3 linked regions of the Homo sapiens genome follow. The protein of the gene in region 1 interacts with the protein of each later gene in a biochemical or structural test. Each region holds a gene or a part of one and is shown in the gene's direction. Other genes may lie near its edges.

Region 1 (7,103 bases):
AGAGTGGCTGACGTGGATCTCCGGGCTCAAACCGTTATTCTTTGCAATATTAGAAGCTTTTTTGTTAGATGGCATGGTTTTTCATTCCTATTTGATGAACATGAGCCCATGGCTGCTTATTTTGTATGTGTTACCTGCCACCATCAAGTAATCATTCAAAGTTAATTTGAAGATTTAAAGGGTTTGCTGAGATCTAGTCCCGCAATATCACGACATTTTTATGGTGTTTTACAAAATTATTTCCCTCATATGGTTTTATTTGCGTTGGGTAGGCTTTATTTATTATCCCTATTTTACCAGTGATTATAAAGCTAGTCTGATACCAAAGCATATATACATTTAGGTAAGACTCAGAGAGAAAACATGGTTCTTACACTGCATTAAGCAGCTGGTTTGTCTCTTAATATAGTAGTTAAATATACTCTATCAGGTTCCACAGAAATGGTGCCTTTGCTCGATAGGCAAGTGCTAACGGTCTTGCCTTTTACAAGGCCACTTTATCATCAAGGTAGGAGGAGGAGGTACTCTGAACCTGCCTGACCTATGGGAAGGCCCTGGTTGTGGTTAGAGACCTTGATTGAAATTAATGGTGTGCGTACTCCAACCTCTCAGGTTTTTCTTTTATACTTCAAATATCTGGAAGTTGTGAAAACCTGCTGCCCTGGTGGAGTATCAAACCAGGCTGGTGAGTGAAAGCGGTCATCCCAAAATGGAGTAAGCTGAGTGTTAAGGGCAGAAAACCTTTTACAGTTATAGTAAGTAATTAACTTTTTAGATCACTTCACAACTTTTGGAGTGCTAAAATGCCATATTTGGGACTATGAGAAATTCCATTATAAAAAGCTGAACCATTAGAGCTAGGAAATAATCTCTGTTAGATATTGGCATATGGTGTTCAATTTTGGGTCTCTCATACTTGAGAGGATAATTAAAATGATTAAAAGGTTGAAAAACAGGTCTTATCATTATAAGTTTTAAAAAGGGGGGAAAGATTTTAGCCTAGAGAAAGAAAAGCTAAGAGATAACTTCATTATCATCTTCAAATACAAGAATAGTTTTGCCAGGGGGATTTTTATTAATTATTCTTCATGAACTTCAAAGATTTAAGAGGAAATGGTCTTAAATTGAAGGAGGAGCAATTTTGATGAATACGAGAAAGAATTTTTTGATCATCAAAGTGGGGAAATGTTTGAATGACTGCCCAAGAGAGTGTTGAATTTCTGACTGTTTCAGTTGTCTATTGTGTGACAAATTACCCGAAGACTTTTGGTGGCATAACATGACAACCATTTTATTGCCTATGATTTTGTGGGTTAGTAATTCAGGAAAGGAGGACATATTTTTTTTTGTCCCATATGATGCTGATTGAGCTGGAGGATCCAAGAAGGCTGCACATGTCTGTACCTTTGGAGCTAGCTGTTGGCTGGGATATCTTGGTTCTCTGTGAGTTCTCTTTCTTGGTCTCTCATCACTTATAAACCTATATCGAGTGGCCGAGCGCAGTGGCTCATGCCTGTAATCTCAGCACTTTGGGAGGCCGAGGTGAGTGGATCACCTGAGGTCGGGAGTTCCAGACCAGCCTGACCAACATGGTGAAACCCCGTCTCTACTAAAAATACAAAAATTAGCTGGGTATGGTGGTGGGCACCTGTAATCCCACCTACTTGGGAGGCCGAGGCAGGAGAATTGCTTGAACATGGGAGGCGGAGGTTGCAGTGAGCCAAGATTGTGCCATTGCACTCCAACCTGGGTGACAGAGCGAGACCGTCTCAAAAAAAAAAAAAAAAAAAAATTCTAGCTCGAGCTTCTTTTACATGGTGGCTGGGCCATAATGGAAGCTGCAGGATCTCATAAGACCTAGGCCTGGCAGTCATACATCATCACTTTTGCCCCATTCTTTTTGTCAGAGTAAGTCACAATTATAGCCCAGATACAAGAGGAGGGGACATTGACTTCACCTCTAAAGGATAGAGGGTAAAAATCACATTGCAAAAGGGCATGCAATGTGATTGGGATTATTACTACCAACTTTATTTTTTGAAACAGAGTCTCGCTCTGTCACCCAGGCTGGAGTGCAGTGGCGCAATCTCGGCTCACTGCAACCTTTGCCTCCCGGGTTCAAGTGATTCTCTTGCCTCAGCCTCCTGAGTAGCTGGGATTACAGTTGCTTGCCACCACGCCTGGCTAATTTTTGTATTTTTAGTAGATACGGGGTTTCACCATGTTGGTCAGGCTGGTCTTGAACTCCTGACCTTATGATCTGCCCGCCTTGGCCTCCCAAAGTGCTGGGATTACAGGCGTGAGCCACCGCACCTGGCCTACCACCAATTTTAGATACAATTTACCACACTGACCTTAGAGATTTTTCATGAAAGAATAATCAATATATGTTTATTAAATGGGTAGTTTGGGCATATGATTTACAAATTTGGCTGCATATAGAGTCATCTGGGAGCTTTTTACAAGCATAAGCTCCTAGGTACCAGACCAGTGACTCAGTGTCTCCTGGGGGTGTTGTGTTGGCACATAAGAGACACTCTATGTCCTTTCTTTCAGGTAACTATCAGTAAAATGAGTATGGTGGGGGGGGATAGATAGATATAATATGTAAGGCAAGATGATATGTACATTGAGATAGATCTCATCTCTCCTGCTTCTAGGACTTGATTGAATCCTATCTAGCATGCTCTTCTTTCCAGTCTGCCTAGTGTAAATTATATTTCATTAAATCAGCCCATCATCAGAACAGTGTTTCTTGATGCCTCTCATTTTTTTCTCATGTTTTCTGGCATTTTTCCTTCATTACTTTTTTTTTAGTTCATAATTCAATATTTATATGATTGTTTGATGTATAATAGACAAAAATACATCTGCTTTGCTTTCGAGTATCTAACATAGTGTCTGCCTCATAAAAGGCACTCAGTAAGTACTTGTTGAATGAATAAGTGGTTGATTGAATGCATGATTGAATGAAGTGATATTTGAATTTAGCTTTAAAGGTGATTGGAATTTTGGACAGGTAGAGCAAATGAATGGGAAATTTATTGTTCTGAAGTGGAAACTGGATCATATTGCTCATGTAATTTCAGAAAACTGGAGAAACTGGTTTGGGAAAATGGAAGAGTTGGTTTTATATCTAGTATGCTAAGTTTGAGGTATGGAAATTTAGCAGGCATTTAGAAATGAAGCACTGATCTGAAGGGTGAGATTGATTCCAGATATTCACTTTTGGGAGTTACCTGACTGGAGAATGTGAAATCTGTTCCTTTCACAAATACCTGGTAAGCTCCTACTGTGTGCCAGACAGCTATGTTATAGGGAAGGTGAACTGCAGTCTGAGAAGGAGCCAGTCTTGTGAAAAGAGCTAGGGAGAATGTTTCAGCCAGAAAAGGAACCCAAGTTTGTAGGCCCTGGGGCAATAAATAATTTATAATTTTTGAGGAATTGAAGGAAGGTGACCGAAGGACAGAGCAAGGTGAGTGAAGTGGGAGAGCTGCATGAGGTAAAGTGGAAAAGGCAAGCAGAGCCCACATCACATGGGGACTTTGTGGGCTAGATAGTGAGTCTAGCCTTCACTCAAAAGTGTGGTGGGGCTGGGCATGGTGGCTCACACCTGTAATCCTAGCACTTTGGGAGGCTGAGGCAGGTGGATCACCTGAGGTCAGGAGTTTGAGACCAGCCTGGTCAACGTGGTGAAACCCCATCTCTACTAAAAATATAAAAAATTTTAGCCAGGCATGGTGGCTTATGCCTGTAATCCGTGCTACTCGGGAGGCTGAGGCAGGAGAATTGTTGGAACCCGGGAGGTGGATGTTGCAGTGAGCCGAGGTTGCACCACTGTACTCCAGCCTGGGTAACAAAAGTGAAAACTCTGTCTCAAAAAAAAAGAAAAAGAAAAAAAAAAAGGGTGGTGGGACACCATTGAAGGCTTAAAACAGAAAGTGACAAGCAAAGATTCTTTTTCTAAATAAAAGGTTACCCTGGCTACTCTGTAGAGAATAGAGAGTCACAAAGAAGGGACCAGTAAGGAAGTGTTTGTCTCCCTTCTTGAGAAGGATCATCGCAGATAGGGCAGGATATGGCAGTGGACATAGAACGGGATAGTTGCAGGATGCATTTAAAAAGTAGAACCAGGCTGGGCATGGTGGCTCACGCCTGTAATCCCAGCACTTTGGGAGGCTGAAGTGGGCAGATCACCTGAGGTCAGGAGTTTGAGACCAGCCTGACCAACATGGAGAAATCCCGTCTCTACTAAAAATACAAAATTAGCCGGGCGTGGTGGTGCATGCCTGTAATCCCAGCTACTCAGAAGGCTGAGGCAGGAGAATCATTTGAACCCAGGAGGCGGAGGTTGTGGTGAGCCGAGATCATGCCACTGCATTCCAGCCTGGGCAACAGAGCAAAACTTTGTCTCAAAAAAAAAAAAAAAAAAAAGTAGAAGTAAAATTCACTAGAGAAGGAAAGGAAGAAGGAAGAGTATGGAGTACAGAACCCTAGGGCCTATGTAGGGGGCAAAAGAAGGAACCAGGGAAGGAAAATAAGGGAGCAAGAGTGGTCATTGATGTCAAAGGTAAGTCAGGCTACCACGCTTGCAGTGGGAGCCAGTGTGGGAGAAGGAGTCTGTAAGGGGAATTCAAGTGTATCCAGAGTAAGTGTGCTGTCTGATGTGTGGCAAGTCAATACCCAAGACCTGGGGGCGGGGTTTATTTGTTGGGCTGCAGAATGAGGAGATGAGAGGGAACTGCAAATCCGTCCTCCTGAGGAGTTTGGAGCTAGGGTTTTTAAGGATTTTGGAGTGGGCTGGAATGTGGAGATTGTTGGGTGGTCAGAGAGAGAAAGGTGAAGTAATGGGACCCGGAGATGAAAAAACTGTATTATGCTGATTTTATTTCTCTCTGAGGGTCTTCAAACTGGTTGGCATCAGCTGTTTTACCAGAATTTGGGATCTGAAAAATATCTCAAGCAATTCTTAAAAAAAAAGCCTTATGCTTCTAATGTCAGAGATACTATCTTTAGAAACAATAGGGATGCAAATGGTCAGTATCTAGCGCTGTGTGACTTTCAGTTACAAGGAAATGTGTCAAAATCCAGCCTGATTAATGTTTTTTTTTTGTTTGTTTGTTTGTTTGTTTTTTTTTGAGATGGAGTTTTGCTCTTGTGGCCCAGGCTGGAGTGCAATGGCATGATCTCGGCTCACTGCAACCTCTGCCTCCTGGGTTCAAGTGATTCTCCTGCCTCAGCCTCCTGAGTAGCTAGACTACAGGTGTGTGCCACCACACCTGGCTAATTTTGTATTTTTAGTAGAGATGGGTTTTCACCGTTTTGGCCAGGCTGGTCTCAAACTCCTGACCTCAGGTGATCCGCCCACCTTGGCCTCCCAAAGTGCTGGGATTACAGGTGAGCCATCGCACCTGGCCTAATGCTTAATTAAAGTTATATTTCTGTCCATAGTTCTTGGTAACCCTCTGAAGACAGCTTCATAATGAAGAATTTGGGTAGGTTTTGGGTGCATGGGGCTTCAGGGAGTCATGAAGGTTGAGGACATAGGAAAGAATCACACATTTATCCATCAGAAGATCATTGGTGACCATTGGCCGGGCGCTGTGGCTCACGCCTGTAATCCCAGCACTTTGGGAGGCCGAGGCAAGTGGATCACGAGGTCAGGAGATCGAGACCATCTTGGCTAACACGGTGAAACCCCGTGTCTACTAAAAATACAAAAAAATTGGCCAGGCGTGCTGGTGGGCACCCGTAGTCCCAGCTACTCAGGAGGCTGAGGCAGGAGAATGGCGTGAACCCGGGAGGTGGAGCTTGCAGTGAGCCAAAATCGCGCCACTGCACTCCAGCCTGGGCAACAAAGCAAGACTCAATCTCAAAAAAAAAAAAAAAGCTGTTGGATCGGTGTTTACTAAGCACCTACTCTAAGCCTGTCACTGTGTTAGTGTTAAGGATTTGTGTGAATGACCTCTTTTAGGTACTTCATTTTACAGATGAGAAAAATGACGCTTAGGGAATTAATCACCTTAACAGGTCACACAGAAAGAAGACTATGAGTTCTGTCTGACCCAGGCCCCATGCTCCTAAACCTTGCATGACACTGCTCTTTGGAAAGCCCTATCAGGACATCAGCTAGAGAGGAATGAAAGGTTTTTAGAGCCCAGTGATGGCTTACCCCAGCTGTATGAATTTGTTAGCAACCCAGTTAAATAAAGTCTTCTGATTTTTCTATAGTAATCTGGCAGTTTAGGAATGGAGAGGTGGGGGAGGGAGGGGAAGATAAAAGATAGAGTAAGAGTTCAGTAAATTAGAAAGGGGATTATTTTGTTGTTCATAAGTGTAATGATTGGATTTTCATGCACATGTATGAGATGTGCCTCCATCAAGCCTTGTTACTACAAAGTCAGTGCATTACCCATCTGATGTGGGAAAAATAAATCAGAAAGAGGCCTCAGCTTGTGGGAATGGTGGAATGCAATGGCTTGTGTTGTTAAGCAAAATTGTGTTTTACAGTAAATATTTATTGTGGTTCTTTTGATGCAAGTTATATTGGGATATGGAGGAAAATGCAAAAATGGATAAGATGGTGTATTTGACCTCTACACGGTTAGAGAGGAAGGTAAAGTGCTTCACTATAGTGCTTGATTGAAGGGTATGACAGGGGTGGAAGGTGGAGAAGTATGGGAAAGTATTATACAAGTTAGCTTGTAGAGCGAGGGTGGCATTAGGTAGGGCTGGCCAGGGTGGTGCCAATCTAGCTTCTCAGGATGACCCCTCAGGATTTTGGTCACTGTGTCGTCAGTCTAGTCTTGGGTCACAAAATGTATTTTGTGGAGAACCTGGAAATAATTAGTCTTGAAGACAGGATTGTATTCAGACTTGAGTGATTGAGCTCAGAATGGAATGCCAATTTATTATTTTAGAATGAAGGATTCCTTTTCCGTTAACGGGATTCTGGAATTTGTTAGGATAATTGCTTTTCAATATCAAGAGATCTGGCAATCAAATTTAATAATATCAAGCTTGCTTGGTGAGCATGGATTTATAAGATAGAATGGTTTGTGGGGGAGAATATAGTTACAAAAAAGATTATTGTTTCCCATAAT
Region 2 (8,066 bases), on another chromosome or scaffold:
GCAGGGGCATCAGGGACACTGAAGGGCTCTGGGGGAGTGACTGTCAGGAGGATTCTCTCCCTGGAACCCCTTTTCTCCTCTTCCCCAGCGTGGCCCCAGGGACTCTCTTATGGAAGAGGTGCTTCCCGCTGGTCTAGACACAGCCCTGCCTTCTCATCAGCTCTAACTGCACAGCTCGGCTGCCCAGGGCCATCTAGGTGGCTGGGAGTCCTGGCACTCTCTGCTCTGCTGCTTTTGAAGGAGGACAGGTGTCTCACCTGTCCAGTCTAACCTGCCAGGCTTGTCCATGTGCTCAGGGTTGATTGAAACTCTTCCTCTTTCAGTCCAAGCTGGAGGCAGGGCAGGATGGGAGGAAGGAGCAGCCTTCCTGTTCTGCCGCACCCTGGCTGCGGGAGGTATTTACAAACACTCCTGGAACTCAGTGACCCTGCGCGGGTTCAGCCGGCCAGCATAGCCTGGCCTTTGGGAGTGGGGAGGAGCGGCCACGGTGGAGTCTTCCCAGGGCCAGTGGGGAGCCAGGGGCCTGCAGGGTGCCTGCCTTGTCACTGCCCTTGTTGTTGTCCCTGTGCATCCCCCAGCCTGGATTCTGGGTCTGGAAAATTGGGAGAAGACAGAGGGTGACTCCTGGGCAGAGTCATGGGAACAACGTGCTCTGGGCTGGTGGAGGGGAAAAAACAGCCACCAAACAGCTGGAGGCAGCAAGGCACACCTGGTGCTGGGGCTCCGGCCTCTTCCTTCTCTGAAAAATTTCCAGTTCCTGCCTTGGGAAGCCCCCACTCCTTTGAGCTAACCCCTGCCAGTGGTCAGTGTCTGATGAGAGTGGTCTGGATTTCTCCTGGGTGGTGAGGCAGCTGTGCCTGCCTCCAAACTACCACATCTGCTTTCACCAAAGTCTATTTGTGTCTCACAGAAACTCAAACACATGAGGTCACAGGTACTTCCCCACCCTCTTTGTCCTCTAATCCTTTCCATGGGTGGAAGATATGCTTTGTTTCATACTCAGCTGGGGAGGCTGTCCAGCTAGGTTTTATGCCTTGTTTTCTTTATTGGGGGAGCAGCACTAAAAATGTGAGTGTTGGAGAGGAGGGGGAACTAGAGCTGAAAAACTTCCTCCCAGGCTGAGTTGTTTGTTTGTTTGTTTGTTTTTAAAGACAGGGTCCCACTCTGTTGCTGAGGCTGGAGTGCAGTGGTGCAATCATAGCTCACTGCAGCCTCGAACTCCTGGGCTCCAGCAATCCTCCCACCTCAGCCTCCCTAGTAGCTGGGACTACAGGTGGACGCCACCACACTCAGCTAATTTTTGAAGTTTGTTTTATAGAGACAGAATCTCAGTATGTTGCCCAGGCTGGTCTTGAACTCCTGGGCTCAAGTGATCCTCTAGCCTTGGCCTCTCGAAGTGTTGGGATTACAGGTGTGAGACGCTGTGCCCCACCTCCCCAGGTCAGTTTTGAACTGAAATCTATGACTTTGTCCAGCTGGCGTGTAGTAGAACATTGGACAGGTAGGATAATCAAGAGGAAAGTGTATACCCTCTTATTTAATTCAGTACCAACTTAGAAGAGACTCCAAGATGGGGAAGAGGTAGGCAGATTGGGGCAGAAGGCAGACAATCCCCAGGTGAAAATGAATGAAGGCATCTAGCTGTGACCTGCCTGCCAAGCTGTTGGCTGCTGGACTCCTTCTTCTCATACCTCCCTTGCAATTTGAGAACAGCCTAAGCAGGTCACTGCTCAAAGTTCTCTGAAGGCTGGCTCCCCTGGTCTCAGCCTGGTGTTCTCTGAAGGCTGGCTCCTTAGCCTGGTGTTCATGGTCTGAGCGCAGCCTGTCTTATTTCTGTCTTATTTCTACCACTCATTCTCAGTGGCCTCCTAAAGCATCCTACATTCCAGCCACAATGGGGTATGTGAAACCTGGAAACGCCACGACTCTCTGGTCCCCATATCTTTGCGTAGGCTGTTCTCCTCTTCTCTCCTGAAATGCTCTTCTCATATGTCTCCTCCTGTTTCTGTCAAATCTGATATATCCTTCAGGGCCCAGCTGAGCCCCTCCTACTTCACAAAAATCCACCAACTTACAGAAATCGCTCTCTCCTCAAAACACCCAAAGCATCACAGTAATCAGGACTTCCTTTAGATGATGCTGGAGTGCCTTGGAACTGAGTCTCATTCAGCTTTGTGCACTTGGTAGCACCCGGCACATGCCTGGCACAAAGTAAATGCTCAACAAATCGTAACAGGGTCTCGGTCTATTGCCCAGGCTGGAGTGCAGTGACATAATCATAGCTCACTGTAGCTTCAAACTCCTGGGCTCCAGTAATCCACTCACCTTAGCCTCCTGAGTAGCTGGGACTATAGGTGCGCACTACCATGCCTGGCTAATTATTGGTTTTATTTTTTATCTTTTTGTAGTAACGAGATCTTGCTGTGTTGCCCAGGCTGGTCTTGAAGTCCTGGCTTCAAGTGATCCTCCCACCTCAGCCTCCCAAAGCACTGGGGTTACAGGTATGAGTCACTGCATCTGGCCTCAAGAAGCCTTTATGGAAATTAACTGAGTCATAATGTTGAATGAGTATAATGGATCATCCAGAAGGGAAAATGGCACCAAAACAACACAGTTCTGTTAGGCTTTCTTGCCCCTTCTATGCCTGCTGGCTTCTTTCCCCCACTCCTCCCATCATCGTTACATATTTCCAACATGGCCAGGTGCAGTGGCTCACACCTGTAATCCCAGCACCTTGGGAGGCCGAGGTGGGCAGATCACTTGAGGTCAGGAGTTCAAGACCAGCCTGGCCAACATGGTGAAACCCCATTTCTACTAAAAATACAAAAATTAGCGGGCATGGTGTCGTACATCTGTAATCCTAGCTACTTGGGAGGCTGAGGTACAAGAATCGCTTGAACTTGGGAGGCAGAGGTTGCAGTGAGCTAAGATTGCGCCATTGCACTCCAGCCTGGGAGACAGAGCAAGACTCTGTCTCCAAAAAGAAAAAAAAAAAAGAAAAAAAATATTTCCAACATACTAAACAGGCCTTTCTCACACTGCAGCTGCCCTCAGTTGCAAACCTGAGGCATACCTCTGTCTTCTAATTTCCTACGTGGTAAAAGGAAACACTTGGTCCTCATGGTTGGCCAACTTAACCTGCAAACTCTTGAGTTCAGTAGCACTTCCCGGGTACCTACTGTGCACCCAGGTTTGTGCTGGAGGCTGTGAAGGAGACAAGTTGAATAAGTCACTACCTGGTCCCTGCCCTCAGCAGGGCATAGGAAGTCAAACCTTGGAGAAATATGAGTGAACCCTTGCAGTGGGAGGTTGGCAAAGACAGTCAAGGGTACAACGTAAAGGCCTGGAAGTAAAAAGTGTCTGGGCTACAGGTTTGTTTGTTCGGGAGATAGAGGAGAATGAGGTAGGGTGGGGTCAAAATGGAGTACCTTGAAATCTCTGTTCAGTCCGAAGGTAACGCGGTTGCTGGTGAGGCAGCCAGCAGGTTAGTGAAGCAATGTGCAGTGTGAACCAGAGGGAGGAGAGCCTGGAGATTGGAGGGACACGAGTAGCCATCCAAGATTGGGGTTCTGTGGATCTGGAAGAATCAAGAGATGCACTGAACAGCTGTTTGGGAGTCAGGACACTGGGATCCCAGTCCCAGCTCTGCAGAGGGACCTTGGACATGTCACTCCTCTCTTCTGAGTCTTTCCTTAACTGTAAAACTTTAAAACCTTCCAAGTGACCTTTCCAATCTGATGACTCGTTAAACAGTTGAGCCTTTGAACTAGGACCTGTGAAATGAAGGGAAGCAGCCGATCTATTAGGCATTTGGAACAAGAAAGGGACTGCCTGGGAGCCCAGGGATAGAGGCAGGGAGAGACTAAAGAGGGCCTGGCAAGGGAGAAATGGGGAACTGCGGGCTGGGGGCCTGCCACTGTCCCGATGTTTGATTTGGCAATCCCATTTTCAGTTCCTCCTTTCTTCCCTTTTTCTAACTCAGCCTCGCCTTATCTGGTGGGGGGAGGGCAAAATAGGACACTCCCACATTGAACTCATGCTCCCCAGGATACCTTCCCCTTTTCCGGCCCTCACAAGGTCCTCACCTTCCTCTGCAGCTGCCTTCCTCCAGAGCAAGGCTTTCCAGCGGGAGAAGTAGAAAGCACAGTGAATTGGGTGGGCATCTTCCTTAGCACCCTCATAGTTACCAACTTTATTTTTTTGAGACAGGGTCTTGCTCTGTTGCCCAGGCTGGGAGTGCAGTGGCACGATCTCGGCTCACTGCACCTCGACCTCCTGGGCTCCAGAGATCCTCCAGACTCAGCCTCCCAAGTAGCGGGGACCACAGGCGCTTGCCACCACTCCTATCTAATTATTTTTAATTTTTTTTGTAGAGACGGGGATCTGGCTATGTTGCCCAGGCTGGTCTCGAACTCCTGGGCTCAGGAGATCCTCCTGTCTCAGCCTCCCAACGTGCTGGTCATGGTTATTTACTGAGAACTCACCATGAGCCAGGCACTGGGCCAAGAACTGTAATGCATTATTATTATTATTTTTTACAGCAATCCTAGGAGGTGATTGTCAGGTGAAGAAATTGAGACTTGATGTTAGGTAATCCGCGCAAGGCCACGACTGGCGATGTGACCCTGGAAATGAGGTCTGACTTCCAAGTCAGTGCTTCGGCCAGCTCCTTCCCGCCGTGCGACCTTTGGCAGCTGGGGACCCCATCCGTCACCTACCACCTCTCAGATTAGATTCTCGATGCGCCCGCCCCTGCGCACGTGATCCCCTGCCTGCCTGGCCGCGCCAGCCCCGCCTCCGGCGCCCGGGTGCCCGGAGCTGCCCGCGCTGCTGAGGCCGGCGGGGCGGGGCGGGGCGGGGCGGGGCGCGGCGCAGCAGGTGGAGCAGGCGGCTCGGGCAGGGGCGTGGCCTTGGCCATGAGGGGCGTGGCCTGGCGGGGGTGTGGCCGGAAGCCTTAAAGTGGCCTGGTCGCCGGGGCGGGCCGTGGAGGCCGCCAGTCGCGGCGATCTTCTCCTCGCTTCTGGAGTGTTATCGTCACCATGTCCCTAATGGTCTCGGCTGGCCGGGGCCTGGGGGCCGTGTGGTCCCCAACCCACGTGCAGGTGACGGTGCTGCAGGCGCGGGGCCTGCGGGCCAAGGGCCCCGGGGGCACGAGCGACGCGTACGCGGTGATCCAGGTGGGCAAGGAGAAGTACGCCACCTCCGTGTCGGAGCGCAGCCTGGGCGCGCCCGTGTGGCGCGAGGAGGCCACCTTCGAGCTGCCATCGCTGCTGTCCTCCGGACCCGCGGCCGCCGCCACCCTGCAGCTCACCGTGCTGCACCGCGCGCTGCTCGGCCTCGACAAGTTCCTGGGCCGCGCCGAGGTGGACCTGCGGGATCTGCACCGCGACCAGGGCCGCAGGAAGACGCAGTGAGTGCGGGCGGGGAGGGGAGGGCCCGGCCTGGGGGCGCGGACCCCTCCGGCAGGGCGGTCTGGGCGCTGGACCCTTCGAGAGTAAGCCGGGCAGCAGCGGGGAAGGCCTTTCGGGACGGAGCCCTCGGCCGGTGCTGGTGTTCTCACCTGGCTTCCCCTTCTGCGGCTGTCCCGCCCAGCTCTGCCAGCTTTGGGTCTTCTTGGAAGAAGGGGCCGTATCTGGGGCGCTTTTTTTTTTTTTTTTTTTAGACAGAGTCTCTGTCGCCCGGGCTGGAGTGCAATGGCAATGGCACGATCTCAGCTCACTGCAAACTTCGCCTCGCAGGTTCACGTGATTCTCCTGCCTCAGCCTCCCGAGTAGCTGGGATTACAGGCGCGCACCACCACGCCCGGCTAATTTTTTTTTTTTTTTTTTTGAGACTGAGTCTCACTCTGTCGCCAGGCTGCAGTGCAGTGGCACGATCTCGGCTCACTGCAACCTCCGCCTCCTGGGTTCAAGCGATTCTCCTGCCTGAGCCTCCCGAGTAGCTGGGACTACAGGCGTGCGCCACCACGCCCGGCTAATTTTTGTATTTTTAGTAGAGACGGGGTTTCATCAGATTGGCCAGGATGGTCTTGAACTATTGACCTCGTGATCCACCCACCTCGGCCTCCCAAAGTGCTGGGATTACACGCGTGAGCCACCGCGCCCGGCCCGCCCGGCTAATTTTTGTATTTTTAGTAGAGACGGGGTTTCACCGTGTTGGCCAGGCTGGTCTCGAATTTCTGACTTCAGGTGATCCGCCCACCTCGGCCTCCCAAAGTATTGGGATTACAGGCGTGAGCCACCGCGCCGGGCCTGGGGCGCTTTTGAATCTGCAGGACGCCCCTCAGCGTCTGGCACACAGTAAGCACTAAGTGAATTTTAGATGAATTCCAACTATACGTGGGCAGGTGCCTTCTTCTTACTAGGGTGGTAGCCCGTGTCTGATACTCGCCTTCGCTTGGGTGGAAGGCCTCCTGGGTATTTCACTGAATAGAAGAACACTTCGAGCCGAGAATGACTGGGCCAGGGCGCAGGGCAGAGGAACAGGAGGCATGAAACCAGCTGACACCCCCACCCTAAAGGCTAACCCCGGGCGCAACGCCTTTACAATGCGGGGTGGGTGGAGGTTGGGGGAGGGGAATGGCGTTTGCCGGCTGTCACATGACTTGCTAACCCCTTCCCCTACCTCATACTTGCCTAGGGGGTTGGTGAAGAGAATTTGCCCCTACAGAAAGAATGTTACAACAGTGTGGTGTGTGCCCTGGGCCCCATGTTAGTAAAGATTTCTCCAGGTTGGAAGGAGCCCGGGTGGGCCCTTGACGGAGCAGAACTGGGCATTGTTTCCTTTTGGAGTTGGTAGAGTTCTTCTCTCTGGTCCTAATCCTGGTGGATGTCTGCTCGCCTGTAGCTCCCAAAGATTGTGTCAGGTTATTTCACTTCTGCAGTAAAAACTGGGCAAAAACCATTCACTCCATGATATTACCGAATTATTTGTTTCACAGGTGTTCGGAAAGGGCAGTGCTTCACCCAAAGGAACGTTCGATTATGTTCATCTAGTATGCCAAAGCTAGCCTCGATTAGCTTAGCTGGTTACTTTGTTAGATCTTAAATACACAGGCCAGTCAGTTAGCACCGAAAGCCTATAGTCTAGGAATCACACTGATTTGCTTTGTGTGTTTTAGATATACATAGCCTTTTAACTTTCCCTTCTGTGGGAGACAGGAAAAGCCAGAGGGTTTGTCCTCTGGAGGCTCCCTTTACTGTGGGGTGGGTTCCATTTCAGCATGTAGGCTTGCAAATGGAATATTTGATGATGCAAACTTACCTGGCCAGAGATGAATAGGCATTTCTGAACTCACATCAGATAAAACTAGCCTTGATGTGAGGATGGATGGGGTATCTCACAGCATCAATTTACAAGCCATAAGGTGAGCAGTGTTTTTGCTAAGGAGGGGCTGCAGCAATGCTGATCTTCCATCTGATTAAATGACACTGGGGGTGGTGGGTTGGCTTCCCTTCAGCTTCAAATGGGTGCTGTTGGCCATCCGTTGTCTTGCGCCATCCCAACATGTGTGTATTCACTTCCTTCTCTGCCACCTGTTTCTTATGTGGACATTTTATCCCCTTGAGAGGTAGATCACATCTCCCTGCCAGAGATGGAGATTCCAGAGTCCTGGGTCCAGTGCCCACAGCAGCCCTGACTCATTGTTGGGCTTCTCTGTCCCTAAACACCCAAGTTTCTCTATTTGTAAATAGAGCATGTTGCCAGACTTAATTGATGTTTGTAAGATGTTTCTGGGTTCCTGGATTAATGGGGCCAATGTATCCAAGAAGTGATTGAAAAGGTTGGCAACTGCTTTGTGAGAGATTGAAACCTTGAGCTCTCTTTTTTTCAGGAAGAGTTCAGTCTCTGCATCTTCATTTTTCTTATTTTATCCAATGTAACCCTAAACCTATACAATAACTCCCACCTATTATGTGAACCGATTACCACCTAGTCACAGTATTGACTTCCAGGAAAATGGTGCTTAGTTGATTTTTTTTTCTTTCTTAAAATAACTGCAAAGGAAGGCTTCTTTGCATCTCTATGGGTAGATGAAATTTCCACTTTCCATCTACAACTTTCTG
Region 3 (7,103 bases), on another chromosome or scaffold:
TCGAGACAGGGTTTCACCGTGTTGGTCAGTCTGATTTCGAACTCCTGCCCTCGAGATCTACCCATCTTGGCCTCCCAAAGTGCTGGGACTACAGGCATGAGCCACTGTGCCCAGCTCAACTGGTATTTTGTGAGGGTTGAGTAAGTTTATGTATTGTGACAATGCTTGGCTTCATGTCAGCCAGGCAGCCGATGCCTTTTTTTTTTTTTTTTTTTTTTTTTTTTTTGAGAGAGAAGCCTTGCTTTGTTGCCCAGGCTGGAGTGCAGTGGTGCCATCTTGGCTCACTGCAACCTCCACCTCTCGGATTCAAGCGATTCTCCTGCCTCAGCCTCCTGAGCAGCTGAGACTACAGGCACGCACCACCATGCCCGGCTAATTTTTGTACTTTTAATAGAGACAGGGTTTTGCCATATTGACCAGGCTGATCTCGAACTCCTGACCTCAGGTGATCCGCCTGCCTTGGCCGGGATTACAGACGTGAGTGACTGTGCCTGGCCTAGCCAATGCCTTCTTAATTCTTTTCCTTCATCTTTTTCTTTCTTTTCTTTCTTTTTTTGTTTTTTTTTGAGACGAGTTTCGCTCTTGTTGCCCAGGCTATAGTGCAATGGCACGATCTCGGATCACCGCAACCTCTGCCTCTCAGGTTCAAGCGATTCTCCTGCCTCAGCCCCCCGAGTCGCCGGGATTAAAGGCATGCGCCCCCATGCCCGGCTCATTTTGTATTTTTAGTAGAGATGGGGTTTCTCCATGTTGGTCAGGCTGGTCTCGAACTCCTGACCTCAGGTGATCCACCCACCTCGGCCTCCCAAAGTGCTGGGATTCCAGGCTAAGCAGTGAGCTTAGTCTTGAGGATATAGAGGTGAATAAAGCCCGATGCCTGTCTTCAAGGAATTTGCAGAATGGCCTAGGTGGGAGCTGGGGAACATGCTCAAACAGGTGTCGGGGAATAGCTCTCACAGTCCTGGCTCTCTTCCTGCCTCGAGCACCTTGGATGTGTTTCTTTGCTTCTTTGCTATACCTTTGTCATCTGTCAATGGGACCTGGACTGGCCCCACTCCGAGGCCCCATCTGTTCTGTCATTTTCTGACTTGTCAGATATAGGTCAGGACAGGCCCGCGCCTGCCGGGCCAGCGCTGTAGCAGGTGAACCCAGGGTGTATCAGCGTTTCCCTTTAGGCCACTCTTGTCAATGCTCCCAACGGCCTCCTCCTTCCTCCCTGTGCTGCTCTGGGGAGGTCTCTTGGCTCTGCCCGGCAGTAGGAACAGTGGAGACAAAGACAGCTTCACATTCTCTTCAGCTGTCAGGATTGAGAGTGGCGGATTCGGGAGGAGAAAAATGAGTCAGTGGCAACTCGTTGTGTGTGACTGTGCAGTTTATCTGAGTCCGCGGGAGCCATAGTCGTAGGCTGAAAATGACCCTTATTTAAGAGAGGCTGAGTGCGTGGTTGTGGCTGCCCAGGCGCTTTGCTGGACTAGGCAGCCTGGGAACACTAACTGAGAAGTGGACGGGGACAGGAGCCAGCCTGCGGTCCTCAGTGTCTTACAGTTTCCTGGAGAAGTGGATGTTTCGGCAGGAAGATGGTGGGTAAACACCTGGAACGATCCATTCTGCTCACTTTTCTACTTCCCTGTACCAGTGCCATGGAATGAGAGGCAGCTCCATTAACTCGTTTAAGATCCTCATAAAGGGAGTTAATATCCTGTAATTACACAGGTGAATTGCATTTAGCAGGTCCATTTGAAGAATGGCAGCGAAATGGATCCTGTCTTAGTAGTGTGACCTTTACTGGGTGAGTTAAATCCCAAAGCTAGCCAATTTAAGGATATGGAAGGACCTTCTGTGGCTTTATTTCTTCATCACCTCATTTTTTGGTTTGTGTAGATCTTTCCACGTTGCAGTGGCATTTATGAAGCTGCTGAGGCCTTCTGAAACTTGACAGCCTGTTATGCTTCTTTTGTTAATAAAGTTTAACAAAACTGTTGAACTCATTCTGAGCAGGGGGTGAAGGGGCAAAGACTGTACAGGAAAACAGGACATAAGTCTGCTTTCCTTAAAAGAAAAAAGTTAAGAGACAGGACAAGCCATTTCTTTTCTGCCTCTTCGTATTACAAGTTCCTTGTTGCTATGCCTGTTGCCTGCAGATAGCTGCTAACACCTCCCGTGCCCTCTCGATGGCTTGCCTCCATGCCCATCTGAGTGGCTTAACTCACTCTTCTGACCACAACAGCATGTTTGATTTGGAGGTGAGACTTCGGTTCCTCCTTCTTCAAGTGCTAACCAGCTGGAGCTGCAAAAATCTTCTCCCCTGGCAACCTGAAGGTTGACTTAAGGCTAGAATATCTTTTTCTTGCATCATTAGTTTTTGGGACATAGCAGAGTTAGCTGGTGAGAGAGATGGCAGTGAAAACACTTCTGGGCTAAACCTACTAAACCGTCAAGTAAAAAGTGACTATGAGATTCGTGGTGTTTCCTTTTGTCCTTCACTCTGCTGAACTCTAATTCTCGCCTTTTAAGTCATTCATTTAGACTTTAGAGTCACTAAAGAATAAGAGACTGAAATTACAGGTCCAAAGGTGTAAAGGAAAGAAAGAAATTCATCTGAATGGAAATAGCCAGTCCTTGAGGCCCATGGCTCCGCCATTCTGCCAGCCATGTCACATGATCTCATTTCATCTCTCCAGTCCTGGAAAGTGGGCATTAGTAACAGCTGAGGACTTCAGACTCAGTGTGTTCAAAGTCACACAACTTGGGAGTGGCCAAGTTAAGACTCAAACCTGAAGCCACTGCCTTTAACCGCGAAGCCATGAAGTCTCCCAGCAACTGCTACAAGGGGACAGTGTCCTTGAACCCAACCCTGCAGGGCGAGTTGGGTTTAAATAAGCAGAGGGAAAAAGGAAGAGAATTCTGGGCAAGAGGAGTAGTTGGTACGAGCAAAAGTGTGGGGGAAGGACTGTGCATGACATAGAAGAGTGCCTGCTGGTTGCGAGCTCCACGGGGCAGGGCACCAGGGCCTCTGGAGCCATCTTATATCTCCCAGTGCCTGAGTGGCTATGCATAGTAGCTGCTCAATAAATATTTATTGCATGAGTGAATACTTGAAAAGACTGTTATCTTCTCCATAGGCTGAGTACCCTGAGAGCAGGGATTTGGTCTTAGAAATCTTTGGATGTTCTGCAACTCACAGTGGTTAATAAATAGCAAACACTCAGTGAGTGTGTCCTGATGAAATGAGTGAAGGAACAGCAGGTAAGGGAAGGTGAGATGTGCTTGAGTGAAGAGTCACTGATACTTTGAGAAAAACTGAGCAATATATGCAGACTGGCTTGGTAAGGGCATATCATGGATGGTCATCAATGCCAGGATGAGGAGCTCTTGTGTCCTCCTTGAGACATTTTTTAAAAATCCATCTCTTACTGCACAACATCGTGGGCCACAGGAACCCAGGCAGTGCTCAAACTGATGGCTGCATATTGGAACCAGAGTCTAGCACAGCTTAGAAATCATTTTTCTGCAGGACTGGCCTTAGGCTGGCCCCATTGTCACTGTCTTCCCACTTGAGGGTGACCACACTGTTACAACCGAAAAGAGCCCTGTGCAAACTTGTGAATGGGAACCTGCCAGGGAATAGATGCTATTGCTGGGTCCCGCAGTTGTTTTCGGGGTAGTTAGGCTGGAAAGTCCCAGCCAACTTCCTCTAAGAGGTGTTCTCAGGCCAGGAGTTCTCAATAAAAGCTTCCCTCTCTTTTCAGGTGTTGGCTACGTTTGTGGTTTTAAGAAAGCCTGAGGGCCTGAAGGCAGCCCCTGGAGAAGCCCTTTCCGAGGGCATTCGGAACCTTCTGGTCCTAGAGGTGAAGCTGAACTGTCACCAGGACTTATGACCCGCGGCTTCGCTCCCATTCTGCCCGTCGAGTTCCACAAGATGGGCTCCTTCCGCAGGCCTAGACCGCGCTTCATGAGCTCCCCCGTGCTCAGCGACCTTCCCCGATTCCAAGCAGCTCGGCAGGCTCTGCAGCTGAGCTCCAGCTCAGCCTGGAACAGGTGAAGGAGGCTGCAGGATGTGGGGTGGAGGGCTGCCAAGGGCCATGGCAGGGAGGGAGGCATCCGGGGGCTGACTGAGCTTCTGCTGATTCTGGGAAGGCCGTGATTATGGGGGTAAATAATGACGAGAGCAAATTTTCTTTTTTTCCTTTTTTAAGAGACAGGGTCTCACTCTGTCACCCAGGCTGGAGTGCAGTCGTGCAATTATAGTTCACTGCAGCCTCAAACTTCTGGGCTCGGGCGATCCTCCTGCCCCAGCCTCCCGAGTAGCTGGGACTACAGGCACATGCCACCACACCCAGCTAATTAAAAAAGCAATTTTTTTTTAAAGAGATGGGGTCTCACTATACTGCCCAGGCTGGCCTTGAACTCCTGGCCTCAAGGGATCACTCCCACCTCGGCCTTCCAAAGCGCTGGGATTATGGGTGTGAGCTACTGCACCTGGCCAAGAGAGCAAGTTTTTTTTAATATCCAGCGTGTCTGTTAGCTTTCTTTGTTTCAGTAGCCAGAAAATAGACCACTGAGGGCCTCTGGCCTGTTAGAGTCAGTTTACCAGACTGGGACAGTTGCACTGGAATTTACGGTCACTATTCATGCTCATTAGTCACACCTGAAACTGTCAGCCTATCCGAGAGTGGGCTTCTATAAGAAACCTTAAGTAACCTACTTCCCACTTGGGAAGATAAAACATGTCTGTGAAAAATTAAATGATTGGCATAAACCCAAGATTATGAAGACCTGTGAGCCACAGGTGCTTGGAAGAGGAGGCACAGAGTTTTGTTAGGTGTCTAGCCAACCTTTTGTGCACCAAGAATTGAGCAGACTGAATCAGCACTATGTCTTATATGCTTGTGGGCTACTGTTTTTCAAATCTTTGCAGACACTGTTTGGAGTAATTAAATGCATCATTATTTTGAAGCATGACTGAATTCTTTGTAGTTTGGATCGTTATGGATCTTTTCTCTTTTTTCTTTTCTTGAGACAATCTTGCTCTGTTACCCAGGCTGGAGTGCAGTGGTGCAATCTTGGCTAACTGCAATCTCTGCCTCCCAGGTTCAAGCGATTCTCCTGCCTCAGCCTCCTAAGTAGCTGGGTTTACAAGTGCGTGCCACCACACCTGACTGATTTTGTATTTTTAGTAGAGACGGGATTTCACCATGTTGGCCAGACTGGTCTCGAACTCCTGACCTCAAGTGATCCACCTGCCTCTGCCTCCCAAAGTGCTGGGATTACAGGCGTGAGCCACTGTGCCCAGCCCATTATGGATATTTTAAATGAATGGACACAGAAAGCAGGACTCTGATGATAGGGATGGAGAGAGGGGGCTCCAAAATGTTTTGGTGTTAAATGGATCCCTGTTCTTTAAAGGAAAGGCCAGGGGCCTTAATATAGACAAGATTGTAAGCAGCTCCTTTGCTGAAACACTGGGCTGTCGTCCCAGAGGCTGTGGAGTAAGCCCTGATATGGCCTCTCAAGGGACTAACTCTACTGCCGGTACACCTCACACGAGTGGACATGTGAGGAGCCTGTAAGGCTGGCCTGCGAGAAATTCTTCCAAGGAAAGTGCTGTTAAAAAGGAAAGGACTTACCGGTTCATGTTAGCTCAAGGCCACCAAGCTTCCCTGTGAAGACAGTGGCTGTGAAAGAACCGCAGGCATGGGTCAGCTTCTGCTTGCAGGAAATGCCATTTGGAATCTCCCAGGTCCATGCAGTTTCCTGCGATCAGATCCCACTGGCTGCCTTTGACTGTGGCTGCACCAGCAGGGCCGCCAGCGAGGTGAGGGAGGAAGACCTGCTGGCTTGCAAGAAAGCGGGGGCTGCTTTTGAGTCCTTTCGCCTTTGGTCTTCCTTTCTCTCCAAGGACACTGAGGAAATGGAGGATGGATGGAGAGTGTGGCCAGGTTTGTGCTATGAGCTTCCTGGTCACTCCACACACCTTCAGCCCTGAGCTGCTATTGAAATGGCCCAAGAAGGGAGATTCTCTAACCAGGGGTTATTCTCTTTTCCTGTAGCGTTCAGACTGCTGTGATCAACGTTTTCAAAGGGGGTGGCTTGCAAAGCAACGAGCTCTATGCCCTGAACGAAAACATCAGGTATGTGGCAGGCCAGACTTGGTGCCATTTTCCCCTATAAACCTGAGCAGGGGCATAGGGGCTACCGCCTTAGGAGCCTTAAGGGTTTTTTTTTTTTTTTTCCTGCTTGATTCTTATTGCTTCTTCTGTCAGCTATGCTGCTTTCATGGCTGTTGCGTTCTGAGACCTGTGTCTGTCTAGACTTCTGATCCATAGAGAATCATTTGTTCAGTATGTAGTGTGTTTTGTAGGGGAAGGGGTGGAGAGTTGATAGATGGCAGCTGTCATTTATTCTGTAAGCATTTATTGTGCCCTTCCTAACCATTAGGCACCATAATAGGCAATTCAGCTTAGTTGTTGGAACCAGACTGCTTGAGGTTTTATTGTGTTCTTCCTTTTACTAAGTGACTTACCAGCAAACATTTGAGTGCGTCTCTGTTGGCCAGGCACTGGAGAGACAGCAAGGACCAAAGACAGACATGGACCTTGCCCTCCTGGAATTTATATTCATTGGGAAGAGAATCATTAGTCAACTAGCCACACATGTGAAATGTAAACATGCAACTAAGACAGCTACTCCAACACAGCTGCTGTGATGAAAGCATATGTTAAAATGACTTGATTTTTGTCAAGGAGGCCAGGAATGGTGGATGTGATGCTGCTGCTGTGATCTGAAACATCCATGGAAATTACCTAGGTGAACAGGGCTCCAGTTGGTAGAAACTGCGCATGCAAAGTTCCTCTGGTTGCAATGAGCAAGGAACCAAAAGAAGGCCCATCCATGTGCATAGAGCACCAGAAGTTGAGTAGTTGTGCAGTTAGGTCTATGTTTTGGTGAAATGAGAGCAGCAAGTCAGGCAGGGCTCAGAGCACCAGGATCTTCTAGGGACAGGAGATCGATCCATCAGGTCTTTTTTTTTTTTTTTTTTTTTTAAACGGAGTCTTGCTCTGTTACCCAGGCTGGAGTGCAGTGGTACCATCTGGGCTCACTGC

The links.
Region 2: of the proteins of RFFL (region 1) and RAB11FIP1, one has a biochemical effect on the other in vitro, tested with the Homo sapiens proteins (one study listed by BioGRID).
Region 3: of the proteins of RFFL (region 1) and PRR5L, one has a biochemical effect on the other in vitro, tested with the Homo sapiens proteins (one study listed by BioGRID).

What each region holds. Positions count from the first base shown.
Region 1 is NC_000017.11:35,053,707-35,060,809, reverse strand, and holds part of RFFL (E3 ubiquitin-protein ligase rififylin), read left to right. Parts: intron 1-6,315; exon of another isoform or gene 6,316-6,422; intron 6,423-7,103.
Region 2 is NC_000008.11:37,896,415-37,904,480, reverse strand, and holds the start of RAB11FIP1 (rab11 family-interacting protein 1), read left to right. Parts: upstream 1-4,983; 5' UTR 4,984-5,039; coding exon 5,040-5,410; intron 5,411-8,066. UniProt on the Homo sapiens protein: A Rab11 effector protein involved in the endosomal recycling process. Also involved in controlling membrane trafficking along the phagocytic pathway and in phagocytosis. Interaction with RAB14 may function in the process of neurite formation.
Region 3 is NC_000011.10:36,397,248-36,404,350, forward strand, and holds part of PRR5L (proline-rich protein 5-like), read left to right. Parts: intron 1-3,749; 5' UTR 3,750-3,874; coding exon 3,875-4,038; intron 4,039-6,050; coding exon 6,051-6,131; intron 6,132-7,103. UniProt on the Homo sapiens protein: Associates with the mTORC2 complex that regulates cellular processes including survival and organization of the cytoskeleton.